Linked DNA regions of Homo sapiens: region 2 is linked to region 1. Evidence: fine-mapped expression QTL. Tissue or cell type: blood mononuclear cells. Region 1 holds a variant in brackets; the other region holds the start of a gene. All regions are shown on one strand. Distances are between the middles of the regions.

The links. PIP is the estimated chance that this variant, and not a neighbour inherited with it, causes the effect.
Region 2: TOM1 starts here. The variant in region 1 is fine-mapped to the expression of TOM1 in blood mononuclear cells (TOPMed, PIP above 0.99). The same link has a PIP of 0.9 or more in monocytes, monocytes after interferon gamma, non-classical monocytes, spleen and whole blood.

Annotation. Positions count from the first base shown.
Region 1 is chr22:35,325,099-35,333,202 of GRCh38, forward strand. It overlaps TOM1 (target of myb1 membrane trafficking protein), which reads left to right. Exons shown (of 15, transcript NM_005488.3): 7 at 2,173-2,289; 8 at 5,249-5,382; 9 at 7,883-7,916. Among named protein-coding and RNA genes, the nearest start is that of MIR3909, 6.5 kb to the right of the region's middle. RefSeq lists enhancers at 3,478-3,772, 5,262-5,762. The variant C/A (reference allele first, on the strand shown) is at 3,568.
Region 2 is chr22:35,296,065-35,304,168 of GRCh38, forward strand. TOM1 (target of myb1 membrane trafficking protein) reads left to right here and starts at 3,830. Exons shown (of 15, transcript NM_005488.3): 1 at 3,830-3,916. The coding sequence starts at 3,865. RefSeq lists enhancers at 3,405-3,927, 3,854-4,003, 3,928-4,450, 4,404-4,563, 4,974-5,495.

The sequences.
Region 1 (8,104 bases):
GGGGGCAGAGGCCTGCACACTGTGGAGACACCCACGTTAAAGGTGTTGTACACACATCAGGCCCATCACATCCGCGGAGCGTAAAGGTGGAGCTGCTGAGTGTGCTGGTGAGTTAGACACGGATGTGTGATGGAAAGAAAAGTGAAGCTTAACTTTCCCAATAAGCGTCCCCACTGCCCACTTTTTGTATCATTTGAACTCATTCTCACCCTAACCTATTTGAAGAGAAACTTCCATGATTTGTTTTCTCATAGCAAGTTATGAAATCACCCCTCAGAGTTACAGATATTACTAGAAAATTTTGCTAACTGGACAAAATTATTAACGCACTGCCCGTTTGCCCCAAGAATACTCTTGTCTCTAATCCTAATGTAACCTCATATACATTTCTGTTACGTTAGGATTGGAGACAAGTTCTGTTTAGAAATAACTCCAAGAACAGTTTTTATGTTTTATTTTCATGTTGAAAATCAGTCAGGTTTACTTCAGCCTCAAAGAGCATGTTTATGTAAAATTAAATGAGTGCTGACAGCGAGCTGCACTTTTTTTTTCTGAGTGGGTTAAAGGTGTGTAAAAAATTGTAAAACCACCTTGTGATTGTCTAACTCAGTTATGATTTTAACCAATTTTCTGAAGTCTAGCATCTGTGTGGATTAAGACGCTAATTACTTCCAATGCAAGAAGGTGCTTGCTAAACAAAACTAATCTTTGTTTAATTCGAGAGTCCCCTTTTGTCTCTTGGGACATGTTAAGACATCAGGTGTGCAGTGATGTTACTCCCAGACTCCTCTGTAATTAAGTCCCATCTGATTTGGATACATGGGGTTTGTGATCAGTAGTTTTTCCACTCACTCATACCAAGAGTGTTCATTAAGTAAGCCAAATAGATCAAACATTTTGCAGGTTTTGGAAGGTGTCAGTGAACCATAGTGGATATACTACTAGTCTCTACACTCCATTTCTTCATCTATAAAAGCAGGGATATTGATGTCTACCATGGTAAAAAATTAAGTTAGCAATATATGTTCAATGCTTGGCACTTATTAGGTAGTCTATAAATGGTAGCTGCTGTCACAATCATGAATGTATATAGTGACACTCTGAAATCAACTATAACTCAGCCACATGATTTAGAATGTACCAGCATTTCTCAAAACATAAAAAGGTTCTTCAGTCAAATAAATCTTAGAAGCTTTCAGACTGATCTTTTCCCAGGCATTCCCAGTGTGCATGAGGGCATTAAACACCCTACAAGGTCCCACAGCATAAGATCCTTATACCAATGGCCTTTCACAAGCTAACCTCTTTGAGGAGACTGCAGCTTTATTGAAAATGTTTCCCCAAGCCCAACTCCTTGGAACCCTTTGACCATTGAAAACCTGCCCACATCCCTTGGAACAAGTGCTAAATCTGAGTTTCATATTCAAGGTGGGGTACAGGGCAAGGACTATCCTTAGATGAGCCTGGGACACCAAAATAGACCAGAAACAGGACAAAATCCCAGTCCACTAGGAGGAGAAAGAGGGCAGAAGCCCAGTCCACTAGGAGGAGAGAGAGGGTGGAATCCCAGTCCTCTAGGAGGAGAGAGAGAGGACGGAATCCCAGTCCTCTAGGAGGAGAGAGGGCGGGATCCCAGTCCTCTAGGAGGAGAGAGACGGCGGGATCCCAGTCCTCTAGGAGGAGAGAGGGTGGGATCCCAGTCCTCTAGGAGGAGAGAGAGGGGGGGATCCCAGTCTTCTAGGAGAGAGGGCGGAATCCCAGTCCTCTAGGAGGAGAGAGAGAGGGCAGAATCCCAGTCCTCTAGTGGGAGAGAGAGAGAGGGCCTGCAGCGTCCCTCCCCGCCTTGTGGGGAGCCACCCTCCAGGGCCTTGTTAGCTGCTGTGTTAGACCCAGGAGATGCTGGAGTCTTCCAGCCACACGTGGTGGCTCATTCCGGTGTGGAGATGGTAACGGTTGGTAGCGCCTCTGTGAGGGGTCTGTAGAAGGGGTGGGGCAGGCCTCTAGTGCAGAGCTGTCACTTTGGGAGCCAGGAGGGAGGCTGCCTAGAGAGGCTGCTGGGAGGTCGGCTCCCTGGTGCTGCACCCAGGGTTGGTGGTACTGGGTTCTGTCGCTGTGAGTAACATGGGCCCCAGAACCCTGGCTTCTCTCACCACGATCAACTGTGTGTTTCAGATTGGGAAGCTGCGCAGTGAGCTGGAGATGGTGAGTGGGAACGTGAGGGTGATGTCGGAGATGCTGACGGAGCTGGTGCCCACCCAGGCCGAGCCCGCAGACCTGGAGCTGCTGCAGGTGAGCAGGTGGCACCACCCCCTGGGGCTCAGATGACTCCTGCCCAGCTGCCCACATGCATTCTTTCCCAATCCTCATGACAGTCTTCATGGCTTACTCCATACTCCTTGGTCACAGTTGGGGACATGTTACCACCAGGGACTTTGGACGCCATCAGATTGGAATCAGATCGCAGCTCTACCACTTTCTGGTTTGAACAAAGTAGCCCCCCTGGCCTCAGTTTCCTCATCTGTAAGATTGCTCTAACAATAGCCTTCATGGCACAAGTTTGATGTGAGTTAAATAAGGTATTGCATGAAAAACACGCAGGCTTGTGCCTGGTACAGAGTAAAGCACCCAGTAAGGGGTCCTGAGAAAAAGCTGGAAGGTGAGATTTACACCATTCAGAATCCGAGACTCAGCAGGCAGGTGTGAGAGGGTGGTGCCAGCCTTGAGATGCGCCAGCCACTGATCTTGGGGAGCCAAGGCAGGTGGAGCTAGTGGTTCCTGCTCCCGGGTGTCACATGGTATTCCCACGGCCCCAGCCCAGATTGGGGGTCACTGGAGCAGAAGGGACACTGAATTTGGCAAAAAGCACCCTCCCCATGGAGGCCAGTCATAGAGGCACCAAGAGAGCTAGGAATCCCCAAGGCCCAGGAGTCACCAGAATCCATGAGGAGACAGAGCGCTTCGTGTAACTGTTCGAGTTCCTACTGCTCGTCCACCAGGCCTCAGGCTCCTTGAGGGCAGCGCTGTGTCTTCCTCGCCACCGTGTCTGTGTGCCTGACCGAGCTGACTCTGCAGGGGTCCTCACTTGGTGGTGCAGGGTGGGGAGAAAAGGAGTAGCCTCAGAGTCCAGTGAATACACAAACTTGAAACCCAGTAAGGGCTCCGAAAGAGAGAAGACTGCGCAGGCAGCCTCGCACGCCCCAAGCCAAGGCCATGAGATGTGAGCAGTCTGGGGACTCAGAAGGCTGAGCAAGGTGGATGCAGGGACAGCTCCCATGCACTGGGCACTTCCCGTGTCCCGGGCTATATGTGGACACTTGGTTCACATCGCTCACGTAATCCTGACCACCCCCATTTTCCAGGTCAGGAAATAGGCATAGGGAGATCAGATAACACGTCCAGGGTTATATGGCTGGTAAGTAGCAGAGCTGCGATTTGAACCCGGGGGCCTGGCTCCAAGTGCTGCTCTTCTGCTCTTGAGAGGGGCCAGCAGGGAAGCAGAAGCAAAGCCACCGTGTGCTTGGTCATAAGAGCAGGAGGGGAGCCCACAGGATGTTGAAAGGCACCCGC[C/A]CTGTCCCCGTGCTAAGGGCGATGAGGAAATCCCGGAGGCCTGACCTTGGAGGGGGCAGGGGACAGGGTCCACATGACAGCCAAAATAAACACTGGGCAGTGCCGAGCCTCAGCGTTGCCTCCAGGAGAAAGGCGTGCTGGCGTGAGGCCACAGTCGGCAATGCCGGGCAGCTCCCTGGACCTCAGGACCCAGGCACCTGCCGTGACCCAGGAACCTTCACCTGGTGGCAGGTACCTGAAGAAATAATTGACCAATCTTAAAAATGAAAACCCATATGGCTATGGTTTTTTATTTTTTTATTTTTTTTGAGACGGAGTCTTGCTCTGTCACCCAGGCTGGAGTGCAGTGGCGCGATCTCGGCTCACCGCAGCCTCTGCCTCTTGGGTTCAAGCTATTCTCCTGCCTCAGCCTTCCAAGCAGCTGGGATTATAGGCATACACCACCATGCCCGGCTAATTTTTGTATTATTAGTAGACACAGGGTTTCACCTTGTTGGCCAGGCTGGTCTTGAACTCCTGACCTCAGGTGATCCACCCGCCTCGGCCTCCCCAAGTGCTGGGATTATAGGCACGAGCCACCGGGTGTAGCCATTTTTTTTATTTTTCATAAGTTTAAATATGACACCTAGTGGTTAAAAGTCGGTGACGTGATAACTAAATGCAGTGTAGGATCCTAGAACAAACAAAGGACATTAGAGGAAAAACTAGTGAAACCTGAATAAAGTCCGCAGTTTAGTTAATAGTATTTTACCAGTTTTAATGTTTAATGGTAGTTTACCAGTTTTGACAAATGCCAGACTAAGGGGAAGCCAGGGTCAAGGGTATATGGGAACTTGTGGTACTATCTTTGCATCTCTTCTGTAAATCTAAAATTATTCCAAAGCTAAAAGTTTGTTTAAAAAGACAAAAAATCAGGCAGTGAGAAAAGTGAGGCAAAAACTCGAAATCGAGGTTTGTGGCTAATGGTTGCAGTCATCTAGTTCATTCTGTATGCTTTGGTTGCAAAAATCACAGCATACCCCCAGAAGTTGTGGTTTGTTCAGCCAGCCCCCTTTGCAGACTCAGTTTTTTTTTGACTAAGCAAAGATGGTGGCACAACCTTTATTCTGGAATCTGCACGAAGCCAAGTTAAACCGGCAGCACAGTTGGACATGTTGATGGTTTCCTGTGGATTAAATTTTAGCATCTAACACTTGGAAGTGAAGTTCAAGTTCATGTTTGTAGAACCCAAAAAGCTGTTCCGTGGAACCTTGAAGTCCAGTTTGGGCACCTCACCCTCCTCCAAGGCTTGTGCAGGGGCTGGAGGCCCGTGCATTAGAGATGGCCTCACTTGGCCAGGCGCGGTGGCTCACGCCTGTAATCCCAGCACTTTGGGAGGCCGAGGCAGGCAGATCGTGAGGTCAGGAGATCGAGACCACCCTGGCTAATATGGCGAAACCCCGTCTCTACTAAAACTACAAAAAAAAAAATTAGCCAGGCGTGGTGGCAGACGCCTGTAGTCCCAGCTACTTGGGAGGCTGAGGCAGGAGAATGGCATGAACCCAGGACACAGCTTGCAGTGAGCCAAGATCGCACCACTGCACTCCAGCCTGGGCGACAGAGCTCCGTCTCACAAAAAAAAAAAGAGACGGCCTCACTCTGAGTCATGTGACTGTGGTTGCCTCACTTCCTTTCCTGGCAGGAGCTCAACCGCACGTGCCGAGCCATGCAGCAGCGGGTCCTGGAGCTCATCCCTCAGATCGCCAATGAGCAGCTGACAGAGGAGCTGCTCATCGTCAATGACAATCTCAACAATGTGTTCCTGCGCCATGAACGGTAGCCCCAGCACCTCCCCTGGCCTCTGGCCTACTGCCCCAACCCTCTCCCTTCCCTTCCTCCCTGTTCTCCTGGTCTCATGCCATCTGAGCCTTCTCTCGTCCTCCTCTCAAACACAAGGCAGGCTCCTAAGGGCCTGTGCCCTCAGCTGTCTTCTTCCAGGATGTTTATGAGGGCCCCTCCTTCCAGCCGCCCTGTATCTCCTTTCCAGGGTTAGCGCTGCTGCCTGTGCCCAAGTCCAGCCCTGGGAGATGGTCACAGGTCACAGCTGAGAGCACGGCCCTGCAACCAGACTGGCCTGGTGTGTCCTCGCCCACTCCACCACTTCCTGGTTCTGGGGCCTTAGACAAGTGACTTCACTGCTGCAAGCTACACAAAACATTTCTGGCTAACTTAGGCAGAAAAAGAATTTGTTAGGATAATAATCTTTATTAAATGGGTAGCTTTCAGAATCCAGAGAAAAGTGAAACTGATGTCTCCCAACAGAACAAGAAAGATGGATCCCAGGGCAGCTCAGATGTCTCAGGAGCAGAAATTCCTGGACCATCTCCCCAGGGTGCTGCCATCAATAAATACATCAGCTCAAACACTTGTCCACAAACACCTGTCCACCTTTTTTTTTTTTTTTTTTTTGAGGCACGATCTTGCTCTGTCACCCAGGCTGGAGTATAGTGGCATGATCACAGCTCACTGCAGCCTCAACCTCCTGGGCTCAAGCAGTCCTCCCACCTCAGCCTGCCAGGTAGCCGGGACTACAGGCATGCACCACCACACCCAGCTAATTTTCTTTTCTTTTTTTTTTTTTCTTTTTGCAGAGACAGGGGTCTCACTGTGTTGCCCAGGCTAGTCTCAAACTCTTGGCCTCAAGCAGTCCTCCCTCCTTGGCCTCCGAAAGCATTGGTATTACAGGCATGAGCCACCACACCCACCTGCCCACCTTGTATCATTCTGTTCAAGAGTCACATCCCCAAGAGAGACTTGGATTGGCTGAGCTTCATTGTGCCTACCAGCTGGGGTATGGGAGAGGGCCCTTTGATGGCAGCCCCACCGGGATGATGTGAAATGGGGGAGGAGCAGTTCCTCTAAAGAGTACTTAGGTGCTATTACAAAAGAAGGAGAAGGGCTGGGCGCAGTGGCTCACACCTGTAATCCTAGCACTTTGGGAGGCTGAGCCGGGAGGATCACTTGAGGCCAGGAGTTTGCAACCAGCCAGGCCAACATGGTGAAACCCCGTCTCTACTAAAAAATACAAAAAAATTAGCCGGAGGTGGTGGTGGGTGCCTGTAATCCCAGCTTACTTGGGAGGCTGAGGCAGGAGAATTGCTTGAACCCAGGAGGCAGAGGTTGCAATGAGCCGAGATCGCACCACTGCACTCCAGCCTAGGCGACAGAGCAAGACTCCATCTCAAAAAAAAAAAGGAAAGAGAAGGAGAAGGATTGCTGGGTCTGCAGAAATTGTGTGCCCATCACACCTCCTCTGTATCTGTAAAATGAGGCTTGTGGCATAAGTGAGAGTCCATGAAACAGTGTCTGTAAAGCGCTTAGCAGTCCAGGGTGTCTGATAACTGACATGAGTTATTCCAGCCTCCTCCAGCCCCTTGTTCATTTTTTGTGTCTTTCTCCATCAAAAGACACTCACTGATTGATTCTAAATCAGTGGAAAGTGGGGGGTACCCTGCAGGTCACGTCTGCCTAGCTTCTCCTGCTCGTTGGCCCAGTGGAATGAAAGGCCTCTTCCCTGCCATTTTGGGGTATGGGCTGTGAGGTGACTGAGGGGCCCCATCTGGTAGCAGCTGGTACCCTCAGATATCCACAGTCATTAGGCTTAATATCTGACTGTGCTTTCAAGCTCGCAGTCACTTATACCCATGTCCTAATTTGGGCTTCAGCACTTCAGGGAGGCAGGTGCCTACAGATACTAGACAAGCAGACTAAAGTTCAGAAGGAACATAATTTACCCGAGGTCATGTGATAAGTGACAAGGCCACGACTTGAACAGACCCCACACTAAAGTCTTCTCGATCTATCACACCGGCCCCTAAGTAGCTCCATAAAACAAGATTAGAGATACATGTATCTTTCTTACAGCACTGAAGAGAGCACTAACACACACACACACACACACATACACACACACAAATATGTAATTGAAACAAGTTTCATAAGACAGTCCTTACCTTTACTGCGTGCCATGCATTCCTATTTTCTTTGCTGTTCTAACCTATTCCTGTTTATTTGTTTCATGCTACTCATGACTAAGGTTGCCTTATAATTGATCATCCAAATTGGGACACTTTTGCAAGGGAAAGAGGAGCACTGCTAGTTACCCAGGGACAGCAGGCATGAACTGGATCTGTCCAGGGCACACCAGACGTGTCATCACCCTGATCATAACCCACCGTGTTGATGTTGAGACCCACAGTTTGAAAAGCTCTGCCTGGCCGTGTGTGGGGGCCTGTCTCAGTCTGTCTCCATAACTCGTGTCTTTTCTGTCTTGTAGGTTTGAACGGTTCCGAACAGGCCAGACCACCAAGGTAAAAGTCTTCTTTTCTGTGACTAGATCAGGCCCTGTTCATGGGAAGAAGGAGTGCCATTCTCACCTCCCTCCCCTAGTAAACTGGACAGGGTGGTGCTGTCTTATCCAGGCCCATAGAGAAATCCCCTTCTAACTTTTTATGTCCCTGTCCCTTTAAGGTAAATAAGGCTGTGCCACCACCTGATG
Region 2 (8,104 bases), 29 kb before region 1:
TGGCAAATGAAACTATGTGCATTATGGTGTTGGCCTAAATCAAGAAAATGTTGATTAATCTTATATAAGGGTTGCATCTGAATCATGTGCTAAATGATATGTTTCAGTACTGTCCTGTTAGCATTACAGTAATGCTGTTGATAAGTTACTTAATCTTTATAGGCTTCCAAAGTCCCATCTATAGAATAGTGTTAAAGTCACTTCCCTGTCTGTAGACCTGCAGCCAGCCAGCCTGACATGAATGTTTAATAACATTATGAACACTGAATATATGGAGATATGACCTTTCAAGGTAAAAACTTCAGTGCAAACACAAGGTGTTAAAAGTCATAAATAGTAAAATAATATGATTAATTACAAGGCTAATGTCTTATGGAAAGGCAGCAAGGAAGAGACTACCGTATCACTGAGTGACTATTAGAGTGATTTGCATACTTTGTCTCACTCATCCTCCGCCCAAAGCCTTAAGAATATTATCTCCCTTTATAGATGCGAAAAAGTACTTTTCCTAAGTTTATACTGCTAGTAAATGGCAAAGGCAGATTAAGAACAGTGAAACAGCTGACCCCAAACCCTAGGCTCTTTTCTACCCCAAGCTACTTTCAGATTTAAATCATGTCTATAATTCATCAGAATGCTTTCCATTATCTCAAGTCCTGAGCGAATGTGATTGTGGGAATGCTGTCTCAGATCTTTGCATTGTTCGGGTATCTAGCTGGCTTTCACTCTTGTCATACTATTGTCTTTAAATTTTGAAGGCAAGGTATCTTGATTTTTGTCTGTAAGCACTTAAAGGATTTAATAGATTACATTTATGCAGACTGTCAATCTTAAGAAATTTGAACATTTTAACCCTCAGTAAGGCATGATATTAATTTTACTAAAACACTTAAAAAGTAAATTGAAACACTTTTTACTAAATCAGTTTGCTCCTTATTAGCACACTTTTTAAAGACAGTTTTAATCAGTTTTGTACTAACTTTAATGTTTGCCATTTACATCCCTATCTACTATGTTGATAAAATCCATATACTGGCCAGGTGCAGTGGCTCGTGTCTGTAATCCCAGCACTTTGGGAGACTAAGTCAGGAGGATCATTTGTGGCCAGGTGTTTGAGACCAGCCTGGAGAATATAGCAAAACCCCATCTCTACAAAAACTAAAAGATATTAGCCAGGTATGGTGGCATGCATCTGCAGTCCCACCTACTCAAGAGGCTGAAGTGGGAAGACACTTGAGCCCAGGAGATCAGGGCTACGGTGAGCTACAGTTGTACCACTGTACGCCAGCCTGGGTGACAGAGACTCTGTCTTTAAAAATAAATAAATAAATAAATCCATATACTTCCATTTCTGTTTCAATAGCTATATAGTAATCAGTTTGCATGGAGTTGTTTTTCTTTTTTTTTTTGAGACGGAGTCTCGCTCTGTCTCCCAGGCTGGAGTGCAGTGGTGCAATCTCTGCTCACTGCAAGCTCCGCCTACCAGGTTCACGCCATTCTCCTGCCTCAGCCTCCCGAGTAGCTGGGACTACAGGCGCCCACCACGGCGCCCACCACCACGCCCAGCTAATTTTTTCTATTTTTTTAGTAGAGATGGGGTTTCACCGTGTTAGCCAGGATGGTCTTGATCTCCTGACTTCGTGATCTGCCTGCCTGGGTCTCCCAAAGTGCTGTGATTACAGGTGTGAGCCACCGTGCCCAGCCTGCATGGAGTTTATGATTCCACTTCCTGTTTGGGGGCATATGAGTTGTCTCTGTTTTTGTTTTTTTTTGTTTTTTTTTTTTTTTTTTTTTACCATGAATAAAGTTTACAAGAACTTGTTAAAAGCTTAAAGGAAGGGCCAGAGATGGTGGCTCATGCCTGTAACCCAGGGCTTTGGGAGGCTGAGGTGGGAGGATCACTTGAGCTCAGAAGTTCAAGGACCAGCCTGGGCAACATAGTGAGACTTTGCCTCTAAAAATAAATAAATAAAGGTTAATGGAAGAATCCAAAAGAAGTTCATGCTAAACATAACTCCATATGACCAAGCAATAAGGTTAAGTGAAGAAAGACATGGAAAGTGCCTTGACCTGAAGGTCATCTTAAATGGCCTTCTCCCCGCTTATACTCCAAATACCATTACTGAAACGTAGATCTATTTAAGCTTTCATGTGCTAGTTACTGGGTTAGACAATAGTGGGGAGCAAAACAGAAATAGTAGCCCAGCCCCCAGGGACATCCAGACTCGTGGGGGCAAAGGCATTTGTGAACAGGTCTCATGAGTGTTGTGGAAACACTTCAAAGCAGTTTTTATATTGTACAGTAAAGACATCGGACCCCATGGCTGCTCAAACAAGTGAATCTACAGAGGTGATTAAGTTCTAATTTAGGTTTGTTTTTTTTTTTAAGACACAGCCTTACTCTGTCACCCAGGCTGGAGTGCAGTGGCACGATCTCAGCTCACTGCAATCTCTGCCCCCCTGGGTCCAAGCAATTCTCATGCCTCAGCCTCCCAAGTAGCTGGGACTACAGGCGTGTACCACCACACCTGGCTAATTTTTGTATTTTTAGTAGAGACGGCATTTTACCATGTTGGCTAGGCTTGTTTTGAATGCCTGACCTCAGGTGATCCACCTGCCTCAGCCTCCCAAAATGTTGGGATTACAGGCGTGAGCCACCACACCTTGCTTAATTTAGGTTTTCTGTCATCCAAAATTTGTGCAGTCAATTTACTAGCCTTTCAGATTTAAAAACCACAAACATCACAATAAGTACTTAAGCACCCACAGTAGCCAGACTACTAAGGCCATGGTTATTGTATTTTTGGAGTACATGCCAGAAGAAAAGGTCATAACCCATAGATAGGTATCTAGTGTGTAGGTGTCAGCAGACACACCACACACAGCCAGGAAGGCTGAAGAGATTAGAATCACAACGCTGGGAAAGGCCTTTGAGATTCTTAGCTTGGGGTCCACGGTTGTACTTCAGGGACCCCAGAAACTCCCTGAGGTTATAAGCAAAATTGTATCGCTGCCTTTTTTCTTCAGAAAGGCTCATGGCTTTTGTCAAATTCTCAAAGGAGACTGTGACCTAAATAAAATATTTTTTAAAAATGGTTACGAGTCCTTGATCTAATTCCAGTATCTAGAGAAAATGGGAGCTATGTTTGGCTCACACAGTAAATTTATGGCAGAGACGGGTATTAAAGCCCCACTCGTGACTACATCTGTGCTTTTTGCCATCCTGGGCGCTAGAGGGAATTGCGCTGCAATTCATTAAATTGCCTCTCAGTCTCAACAGATGACAAACCCCTTGCCCTTGCCTCTGATTTAAGGTAAGATAATTTGGGCTGCGAGCAGGGTGCATCTTGGAGCGGGGAGACCTTGACATCAAACAGGAAGAGTCTTACCGGGACAAGGAGACAACAGCCCAGAGAGGCTGTCACCCAGGGTAGGTGTGCAGTCACAGTGAGGTCCCAAGGACTAAGGGCTATGACCCTAAGAGTCTCGGCTTCTGTGTAACTCACCCAAGTCACTTCCCTGGTCTACGACCCAGTTTCCCAAATGTGTAAAGGGTCCTTTAGACCTCGCCCTAAAAGGTCAGGGGCGTGGCTTAAAGAGGACCGCGCTTCCCGGGCCCCGACCCCAGACCCTACATCGTGTGTGACGCCCGCCGCCGCCGAGCAAGCCGCAGTGAGGTCATCGCCCTCCGCCTCGGGGGCGGGACCCTGGCGTCTCAGGGCGGGGCTTGTGGTCGAGCTTCGCGGTGCCACCGCCCCGCCCACGCCTCCTCGCCGGCCTCCGAGTGCGTCACGTGACGGGTCGGTGGCGCTGGCGGTTGCTGTCAGCTGATTCCCGGGGTTGGTGGCAGCGGCGGTAGCAGCAATGGACTTTCTCCTGGGGAACCCGTTCAGCTCTCCAGTGGGACAGCGCATCGGTGAGTCCCTGGAGCCCCCCACAGCTCCGCCCCGGTGCTCCGCACCCAGCTTCGGTCCCCTGGGAAGCCTCCGGGTGCCTAGTCACGGAGGCAGGGAGGGCAAGGAGGCTGGCGTGTAGCTCTCCGACCTGGCTCCGCCCAGCTTTCCTCCCACTCTTGATTGACAAGAACTTGGGCCATTAGGAAGCCTTGGCTTGTGATAGATGTATATGACAGCCAGTAGGTAAGGAGAGAGGGTGGGTCCGGATGCCCACGGCGCAGCCAATGTGCGTCTGCTGGGGTCCCCAATCGAGGGAGAAAGTTTTCGTGGTTAAAGGGACTGCGTGGTTGGCAGTGGCTGGGCCACTCTGCTGGGTCCCGCCGCCTGGGCTCTGGCCAGCTCCTTCCTGGCTCACCGGGCCCTCCGGACACAGACACCTGAGAAGGGCTAGAAGTCCCTTCTCCCAGGACCGCGAAGCCCCGGGCTTGGCGTCTTGGGGCCAACTGGCCAGAGGGGCCCAGCGCCGGACAGCCCGCGGCCAGGCCTCACAGACCCGGGTCTCAGGACGTGTCCGCCTGGGCTCTTTTCTCGACCCAACCTCAAATGGACCCGCACAGACTCTCAGAACCTGAGCAGACAGTGGTCGGACAAACCCTCCTGGTCAGCCCATCTCGGTGCTCCGTAGGTGGGGCAGCCGGGAACTCGGGCCAAGCCAAGCCCAGGGCACCTGGCGCCTGTCTGCTGGTCCGTGGTTCTCTGCACCCTGGTGACAGGATACTCACAGTTCTGTGACGCAGCCTCCCTGGGCCGAGGTTTCCTCACCTGTAGTTGGCGGGCAATAATGGTCCCCACCTCCGTGGGCTTGTTGTGAAGATTAAATTCCTTAATAAATGTGAAATACTTAGAACAATGCCTGGTACATGGCCAGTGCCATATAAAAAAAAACAGTTGTAATATTTATTATCACTGGGCTGGGCACGGTGGCTCCCGCCTGTAATCCCAGCACTTTGGGAGGCCAAGGCGGGCAGATCGCTTGAGCCCAGGAGTTCGAGACCAGCCTGGGCAACATGGCGAGACCCCGTCTCTACAAAAAAAAAAAAAAAAAAAAATACAGAAATTAGCCGGGCGTGGTGGTGCGTGCCTGTGCACCCAGCCACTCGGTAGGCAGAGCTGGGAGGATTTATTGGATCTGGGAGGTCAGGGCTGCAGTGAGCCCTGATGGCGCCACTGTACTCCAGCCTGGACGACGCAGGGAGAGCCCATCTCTTGAAACACATACACATACACACACACACACGCACACATATATATAAAAATATACACATACAAACATACATATACATACACATACATATATATTATATGTATTTACACACACACGTTGTTCCTGAGATCACCAAGTGAAGGTTAGGAATCCCTGGAAATCGCTTGGCAGTAGATCTCATAGGTGCTCATTCTTGGGCACCAACACCATGAGAACCGACATGCCTTCACCCAAACAGCCACACTTCTCCGGAGGATGGTTTGGGTGTTCCGCATTCTTGCATGAAGAAACCATCGCATTACCGTGAAATTACTCTTCATCTTTTTTGATGACGACTTTTCGTCTTAAGTCCAGACTGGGAAAACTTTAAGATGAGACATATTTTCCATTCTTAGTGTCTTGCGAAACCTCACGAAAGCTTGTCGACCCGGCTCTGTGTTGTAATCGCCACCGTGGCTGTCGGTGGCTCTTCCGAGGTTTTGTAATCAATGCTCTCCAAGGGGGAGGTGGCAGTCCAGGATTTACACACCAGGAAGCTCCTGAACCAGGGAGAGGAACTGCCCTCTCAAAGGACCCCTGCCCTCCCCGGACACACACCCACCCCACAGTGAGTCATGGTTTTTTGGAGCTGAAAAGAGAAGGCAGCTCTCCTCTCATCTATATTTCTCTGACTACAGAAACCACTGCTTTTATCACATGCCAAGTTTAAGACTTACTACTTAAAAATAAACAAGTAAATAAAAGACCTGGCTTCAAAGTCAGCCACATACTCTTAAGGCTTTCTGGAAAAGCTCACCTGGGTTCTGGATTTCAGCTAATCAAAGCAAACTTCTCTTCTTACCTTGAAGCGTTGCCTTTCTTGGGCAAGAAATACTTCTGTGCAAAGAGAATGCTACTAAATCATAATACCTTAAAGCACAAATGGAATTTTGCAGGTAAAAGAGCCTTACCTTGGGGATCTTCTAACCCAGTGGTTCTCATCAGAATTCCTAGGAGGGCTTGTTAAATAATGTCGGGGCCCCAACCCCAGAGTTTCTGACTCTCCAGGTCTGCGGTGGGACTCTAGAATGTGAATTTCTTTTTTTTTCTTTTTCTTTTTCTTTTTCTTTTTTTTTTTTTTTTTTTTTTGAGACTGCGTTTCGCTCTTGTTGCCCAGGCTGGGGTGCAATGGCACCATCTTGGCTCACTGCAACTTCCGCCTCCCGGGTTCAAGCGATTCTCCTGCCTCAGCCTCCCAAGGTAGCCGGGATTACAGGCACGCTCCGCCACACCCGACTAATTTTGTATTTTTAATAGAGATGGGGTTTCTCCATGTTGGCCAGGCTGGTCTCAAACCTGAACAGGTGACCCACCCACCTCAGCCTCCCAAAGTACTGGGATTACAGGCATGACCACCGTGTCCGGCCTAGAATGTGAATTTCTGTTGAGTTCCCGGGTAATGCTAATGCTGTTCCAGCCCATCCCCTTCATTTTACACTGGCGGAGACTAAGGTCCAGAGAGGGGAAAGTGGAGGCTGTGACTCATCCAAGACCCCAGTAAATTGACAGCAAAACTGAGTCATTGAAATTTAAACCAAAGCTGAAGAGGCTCCAAAAGTAGAATTAAGAGTTTGAGTTAATCCCCTCAGTATTCCATATTCTTTTAGATAAAGAGGCGGAGGAAGTACTGCTCCCTGGCTGTGATTACTGATGACACAGTATAGCTGCTTATAATTCTGTAAACCAGGCCCCTCCTTGCTGCAGGAGTACCATCTCTTCTCAAGCCTGCCGACTCCCATGCCCTTGTTGATAGTAGAGCTGTAGAGCCATATGGAATTGACATCCCTCAGATGGTGATTCTAATGATGCTAATCAGGAATGAGTGTCAGTCACTGGAATCACAAAGTTCTCATCCACCTCCCCTCCCAACACACACACACACACACCCCTTTGTGCTTGCTGGTCCCTCTGCCTGGGTTGCTTGCTCCTGTGCCCCCACTGAGGAGCTCCAGATCACCCTTCAAAGTACAGGGCATCATCACCTCCTCCCTGAGGCTTGCCCCAAGCCCGACGTTGCTCTTTTACTCTCCCTTTATCCTAGATCCTCAGGCCCCCTTGCCCTATGACTTTGGGCTCTGAATCTCCGCTTCCTCCTTGGTAGAATGTTACTAACAGCATCTGCCTCACAGGGTGGTTGCTGGAATGAAACAAGATAGTCCTCTGAGAGTGTCTCGCACAGTGTGAGTGTATGGAAACATTAGCTCTTCCTGTCATCATCACCATCATCATTTTTATTATTTCTTTTTTTTTTTTTTTTTTGAGACAGAGTCTCAAAAAAGGCTGGAATGCAGTGGCACAGCCTCAGCTCACTGCAACCTCTGCCCCCCAGGTTCAAGTGATTCTCCTGCCTCAGCCTCCCGAGTAGCTGGGATTAGAGGTGCACACCACCATGCCCGGCTAATTTTTGTATTTTTAGTAGAGATGGGGTTTCACCATGTTAGCCAAGCTGGTCTTGAACTCCTGACCTCAAGTGATCCAGCCACCTTAGCCTCCCAAAGTGCTGGGATTGCAGGTGTGAGCCACCACGCTTGGCTTATTTTTATTATTTCTACCCTCATTATACTAATATGCCACCGTCCCACTCTGTTAGTGGTTGTGCATGTCTGTCTCCACAGCTAGGCTGAACCTCTTGAGAGCAGGAACTGTGCCTTATTTCTCCAGACCCTCAGCACCTAGCACGGTGCCTGGCACATAGCAGGAAGGAGGAAGGGAGAAAAGGAAAGTAACATTTTGTGAGCAAACACCATAATAACTCTGCCAGGTATTCTGCTAGCGTCCTGGGTATTAATCTCATGGTGACCCTGTGCGGTTTTGCTATTTTTTTCCCATTTCACCAAAAGTCAGTCTAAGAGAAAGCATCGCTTTCCAGGGTTCCACAGCCACTCAAGGTCAGAATCCAGACCCA